2 separate regions of the Homo sapiens genome follow, and region 1 is linked to region 2. A link means that fine-mapping ties the variant in region 2 to the expression of a gene that starts in the linked region. Tissue or cell type: skeletal muscle. Region 2 holds a variant in brackets; the other region holds the start of a gene. All regions are shown on one strand. Distances are between the middles of the regions.

Evidence for each region. PIP is the estimated chance that this variant, and not a neighbour inherited with it, causes the effect.
Region 1: it holds the start of TTC9-DT, and the variant in region 2 is the best candidate, but not a certain one, in a credible set for the expression of TTC9-DT in skeletal muscle (FUSION, PIP 0.88).

The regions. Positions count from the first base shown.
Region 1 is chr14:70,640,040-70,642,944 of GRCh38, forward strand. It overlaps TTC9-DT (TTC9 divergent transcript), which reads right to left and starts at 1,259. Exons shown (of 3, transcript NR_110071.1): 1 at 969-1,259. It overlaps TTC9 (tetratricopeptide repeat domain 9), which reads left to right and starts at 1,877. Exons shown (of 3, transcript NM_015351.2): 1 at 1,877-2,496. The coding sequence starts at 2,091. RefSeq lists enhancers at 772-951, 1,052-1,311 and silencers at 1,782-1,931, 2,152-2,341, 2,362-2,431.
Region 2 is chr14:70,025,994-70,028,898 of GRCh38, forward strand. All of the region lies in intron 11 of SMOC1 (SPARC related modular calcium binding 1), which reads left to right. Among named protein-coding and RNA genes, the nearest start is that of SNORD169, 49 kb to the left of the region's middle. The variant T/C (reference allele first, on the strand shown) is at 1,488.

The sequences.
Region 1 (2,905 bases), 610 kb after region 2:
AAAGACCCTGACTCAAAAATAAAAAAGAAAAGAAAACAACAACAACAACAACAAACAGTAAATGAATTGTGTATATTGTTCCATACCACTTATGTTGGCTAAAAGAGCACTTTTTACAAATATAGATGCCTAGGAAACAACTGGTAGGAATTACATCAAAATATTAACAAAGAATACAACTGGGTGTAGACTGGGGGGTTCTTTATACTTTACTGTATTTTCCAAAGTCTCTACAGCAGTGTTTCTCACACTTTAATAGGTAAACAAATCACCCAGTATGCTCGTTAAAATGCAGCTTCTGGGTTAGTAGGTGTGGGATTTTCAGATTCTGCATTTCTGATAGGTTCTCCTGTGATGCTGATGATATTGGCCCAAGGTCTACATTTTGAGTAGGAAGGTTTTAAAGCAGCATATCTGAACCAATATACTGGTTAACTGAGACCCACCCTCAGAGTTTCTGATTTCTTAAGTCTGGAGTAGGATCCTAGGATTTGCATTTCTAACTGTTTCCCAGGTGATGCTGACACTGCAGGTCTGGGGCCAGCACTCTGACAACCGGTGCTCTAGAATCTTTCTTTTTCTTAACATTAAGGAAGGGAGGGCACTAAAAAATATGTCAGGCTTCTCCATTGACTCCAAAATCAAATCCAAACTCTTCATCCAAAAGCCCCCATAATCCAACCCCGTCATTTCCCACTACTTCTCATTAGGCTATAAAATCAAACCACTATGCCCTAAACACACCTGAGATTTCAAACATCAGGACTTCCGCTGGATTTCCTCACTCCGGCTATGCCACTTCCTTCTACTTCTTCATGCCAAATCCTACCCAGCCTTCAAGGTCCTCAAATGCTATTTCCTCCATAAAGCCTCCTGATCTACCACTACTCAAAAAGCTACCTCTCCCTCCCCCCCTCAGGGCTGCACAGCACTTTTCGTTCCTCCCCAATGACAGGCACCATCTGTACCTGGTCCAGCGACTCTACCGGTGGGTGGTGTATCTTCGCCTGTAGACTGGGAGTTTCTTGAGGTCAGGGGAGTGACTTGCCTATCTTTGCCTCTTAGCCTTAGCAGATCCCCAGTAGACAGCTGACACTCAGAACCGACCAAAAGAAGGAAGGAATGGGACCTCCTGAGGAAGGGCACAGAACTGTCCTGTAAATGGAAACTAGACCGGACGCACGCCAAGCCGATGACCCACAGTAACAGGTGTTCTCCATCTCTGATGTCTGTGATTCATCCTGCACAGCTGCGCGCACACAGCACACGCATACACAGGCTCCCAGAATACGGCGCCCCACACGCTGTACCGCCCGTCGCGTTCTGGACGCCCCGGCGACCACACACACCGAGACACACCTCAGCGACAACCTGGATCCACAAAAAGGAGGCCCTGCCCCCTTAAAAAATACTAACACCTTACTGCAAAGAACTAGCAGCTACGGCTTGCGCCTGCGCCCCTTGTTCCCTGCCGCACCTTTTCTTGTAGTTAAGAAATCTATTTCTGCACGCATTTCGTCGCCGCCGCCCCCCATCCCTACACGCACGCACACACACACACACACACGCACACACACACACTCCCCTTCCCCTACACCTACCCCCCTCCCCCCACCTCCTTTCAGACTAGGCGCGCCTCGCAGAGCGGGATTGAATGGGAAAGAGCGGGGCCGTCTTTGTCATTAATCCTCCCCTCCTTCGGGCAAGCCAAGCTTCTTCCGGGTCAGCGACCATCCCCGCCACCCCACTCGGGGCCACGGTCCCCCCGCAGCGCTAGTCCCGGGCCCGCGAGCACCGGCCCCCGCCACCCGCAGGTTGCGGAGGGAGGAGGGCGGGAGCGGGCGGCGCGGAGCCGGGAGGCGGGGGAGGGGCCGGCGTCCGAGGCGGCGGCGGCGGCGGCTGGAGCAGCCTCTGGCAGCAGCGGGGAGAATGGGAGTGCGGGGCGCCAGACCGCCGCGGGGTGTCACGGCCGCCACGAAGCCTGCGAGGCGCGGGGCCGGCGCCCGCGGCTTTTAAACCCGGGAAGGCGCGGCGGCGGCGGCGGCGGCGGGCAGATCGCGGCGCGCACCAGGCGCCGGGGCGGCGGCCGAATGGAGAGAAAGGGCTCGGCGGCCGGGGCCAAGGGGAACCCGAGCCCGCCCGCGGCCGGAGAGGGGCAGCGGCCACCGCCGCCGCTGTGCGTCCCGGGCGGCGGCGGAGGAGCCCCAGCGAGGGGCCAGGTCGGGGCGGCGGCCGAGCCGGCCGAGCTCATCCGACGAGCGCACGAGTTCAAAAGCCAAGGGGCGCAGTGCTACAAGGACAAGAAATTCCGTGAAGCCATAGGCAAATACCACCGGGCGTTGCTGGAGCTGAAGGGGCTGCTGCCGCCCCCCGGGGAACGGGAGCGGGACTCGCGCCCGGCCTCCCCGGCTGGGGCCCTGAAGCCCGGCCGCCTCTCGGAGGAGCAGAGCAAGACGGTGGAAGCCATCGAGATCGACTGTTACAACAGCCTGGCAGGTGAGCCGCGCCGCGCCCCCCGCGCCGCGGTCCCCGTTCTTCGGCCCGGTCCCTCCGCGGACCACTGCGGCGCTCCCGCGGTGCAGATTCTCCTGCTGTGACTGTGTTGCTCTGGGGAGAACCCGGGAGGGAGGCGCTTTGGAAAAAGTGTGACTTTCAGGATTATGCCTTTCAAAGGCCATAATCATCTCTTGTCCCTTCGCTAGCATACATCGTAAATCTCACCTAGAAATGACTGGAAGGGGACCCAGCTGGCCTGGCTATGGCTGCTGCTGCTACTGCTCACCAGTGGACCTGGGTCCAAAATGCGGAAGCAGCGCCCGGGGTGGGCCCCCGCAGCCACCGCTAGCCCAGCTTTTTCCTGCGGGTGGGTCCCAAGGGAGGCCACGCACCTGTCTGCTCTCCTTAG
Region 2 (2,905 bases):
GTTTACTCTTCCGATTACCCCTTGAAGCCAAAAGGATTCTCTCTCTCAATTCCTAACCTCTAGCACCGTACATGGCACCTGGTAATTCATTAAGTCCTTGTTAGATGAATGAATAAGTGAAGGAATGAATGGATGGGGGGGTTGCCCCTTCCGGTGACATTATGCTCTGACACGCTTGGAATTTGTGGTCCTTTCGCAGAGCACAGTCAGATGGCCAATGTCGGGAAGAGACCATCCAGTGTCAATGTAGACCCCAGGCATACCAGGGGCACTCCTGGGCTAAGCGATGATGCTCTGTACTGCCCCTGCCTTCGGCCCCCTTCCCGTGCTAGTAGTTCTGGTCTGCACAGCACACGGAAGCCAAGCAATGGCTGAGTGTGGTGAGCTCAGATCCACCGAGCTCAGGGACTCCTCCTAGCCTTCCTCTGAAGCCTTTCCAGGCACCAGGTGTCTGCCAGTCCCAGCTGACATACAGGACCTGACAGAAGCATCCAGAGAAAACTGAAGTAGAATGTAGATTTAGGGATCCCTGGTCATCTGGATGTTCCTCCTCAATCCAGGCTCAGCTGCAGACAAGTGTTAGTTTCAGTTATCCTCATAGCTTTGCCCACAGAGGCCCCTAGGGTGCTTTGGAGTGCAACTGTCATTCTTCTTGGCCCAATACACCCTCTTGAACCTCTCACCTCAAAGGTAGGACTATGGAAAGTCTGGCCAGAAAGCCCGTGTCTGTGACATGTCTCTGAATGTATATACACATGTCTGTTTGTGCATGTCTCTGTGGGTAGGCCTGAGTGTGCACCTGTCTGTGTTCATGTCTGTGTCTGTTTGTACATGGTCTACACTTATGTCTTTAAGTATGGCTATGTGTGCATGTCTATACACATGTGTGCATGCATTGTGCATATGTCTGTGTATGTCTGTGCATGTGTCTGCATATGTGTGTGTATGAGTGTGATGGAGTGAGGGAGAGTAGAACATTGAGATAAGAGGAAGAGGGTATGTAGGATTAATCAATGGGGTGGGGTGAAGTGGAGGCTGAGTAGACTTAAAGCCTATGCAGAGGCAGAAAGGATTCCTGTGTCCCCACTCTCCATTTCAACACACACCACAGGACACACTGCTCTGGACCCAAGCAGCCCAGAGCTAGAAGGCTCTGTGGGTCCTCTAGTCCATTTTGCAGTCTAGGAGTCAAGGCTAGCCCAGAGAGGAGTAGCGATTTGCTCAAGGGTACATGTGAGGTACCACCACTGCTGGCGCTTGGCCCAGCCTCAGGATTCCTGGGCCAGACTGCTGTCCCCTCCAGGAGAAGGACCCCAGTGTGTTTGAAGATGTCGCCTTGTGTGAGCAGGCCAGTCTTGGTTGCCTGGTGAAGCCAAGGGAGTGGCCAGTGGGGGAGTCTGGGGAAGAGGGGGAGCAGACCAGCCTGGGGGCAGCGTGGGCAGGAGTAGAGGTGTTGCAGGGGGTGAGGGTGCCACCAGCAACCTGAG[T/C]GGGGAAGCCCACAGTTTCCAGGCAGGCAGTGCCTATGGGATGACGGACCACTATTGAGAGGCCCAGGAGCAGTGTGGGTATACCATGATCAGGCACAAGTAGGGGCTGGAGTAAGTGCAGAGGCCCTGAAGTCAGATGGGCCTGGCTTGATTTTAATCCCAGCTCTGACAATTACCGGATCTTTAATCCTTGGCAAGTTACCTAAACTCTCTAAGCCTCCGTTTCCCCATTTGCAAAGTGGAGATTATAGTACCTACCTCAACGATTTGGTGAGGATGTAATCAGATAATGTGTGTGAAGAACTTAGCACGGTACCTGGTACATAGCGAAGGCACAAAAGAAATTGGTAGCGGTAGAGGAACATGTCCGGGAAAGAAGGTATGAGTTTCAGAACTGCCCCCTCCATCCCTCTGCTCTGCAGGGCGGCAGAAAAAAGCCCCTGTGGTCAATGGTGTGCAGGGGCTCCGGGAGCAGAGCCTATGCGTCGGTCATCCATCCCGTGTCGTGCGGTGCCCCCTGGTGGGCTGCGAGGGGCTTGCATGCTAGGTGGGGACAGAAGCTGGCTGGGGGAAGGATGCCGAGCTTGGGGACCAGTAGAGTTTTGGGTCCAAGGGACTGAATTTTTGGAAATTCCACTGGATCACAGATATTTTACCAACCAGACTCCTCCCTGGAGAGCTGAATTCTCTGCATAACATGCCTCTTTCTTCACTTTCCCAATTTATAAAGCACCTTCACTGGGATCATTGTCACTGTCCTGTGAGGCAGGCGGGGTGGGGTCTAGTGCCTCCTTTTCTCAGAACTATCCGCTCTTCTTTTGCCTTGTCTGAGGATGCCAACTGCCTGGGGCTCAGCCTTCTTCTCTTCCATCCTCCCTGATGGCTCAGAGCATGATTCTGGAGGCAGCTAGCTAGGTCGGAATTTGCTTTGCCGCATGGAAGCTGTGCCATCCTGGGTGGGTTACTTGATATCTCCAAGCTTCAGTTTCATCATCCTAAGATGGAGATAATTTTATCACTCTCAAATAAAGTCGCTCTGAGGATTAACTGATAGGACTTAGGTAACAGGATTAGCACATAAGCCTCCATGAAAAAGAGCTGGTTACGGCTAGCTGTCCATTTTGCTTCACACATCTCAGCCTGGTGGGCAGGACTGCTGTGCACCTCCTTTTTAGATGTGCTGACCTTTCTACTCAGCAAGGAGAGAAGCAGCTGCTGGAGGGAGTGGAGGAAAGGTGGGATTTGAAGTCAGCAGCCTGACTCTGCCGCTTCCCACCTGCCTGCCTTGGGGCTGTCACCTTCTTTTAGAGTTCATGTCCTCCTCTGTAAAATTGGATAAACCGATATCCACCCCACGCCCACTCCACCCCATGTCCGCTCTCCTTTCTTCAGTTGTAAGGAATATTGGCATAACCCAG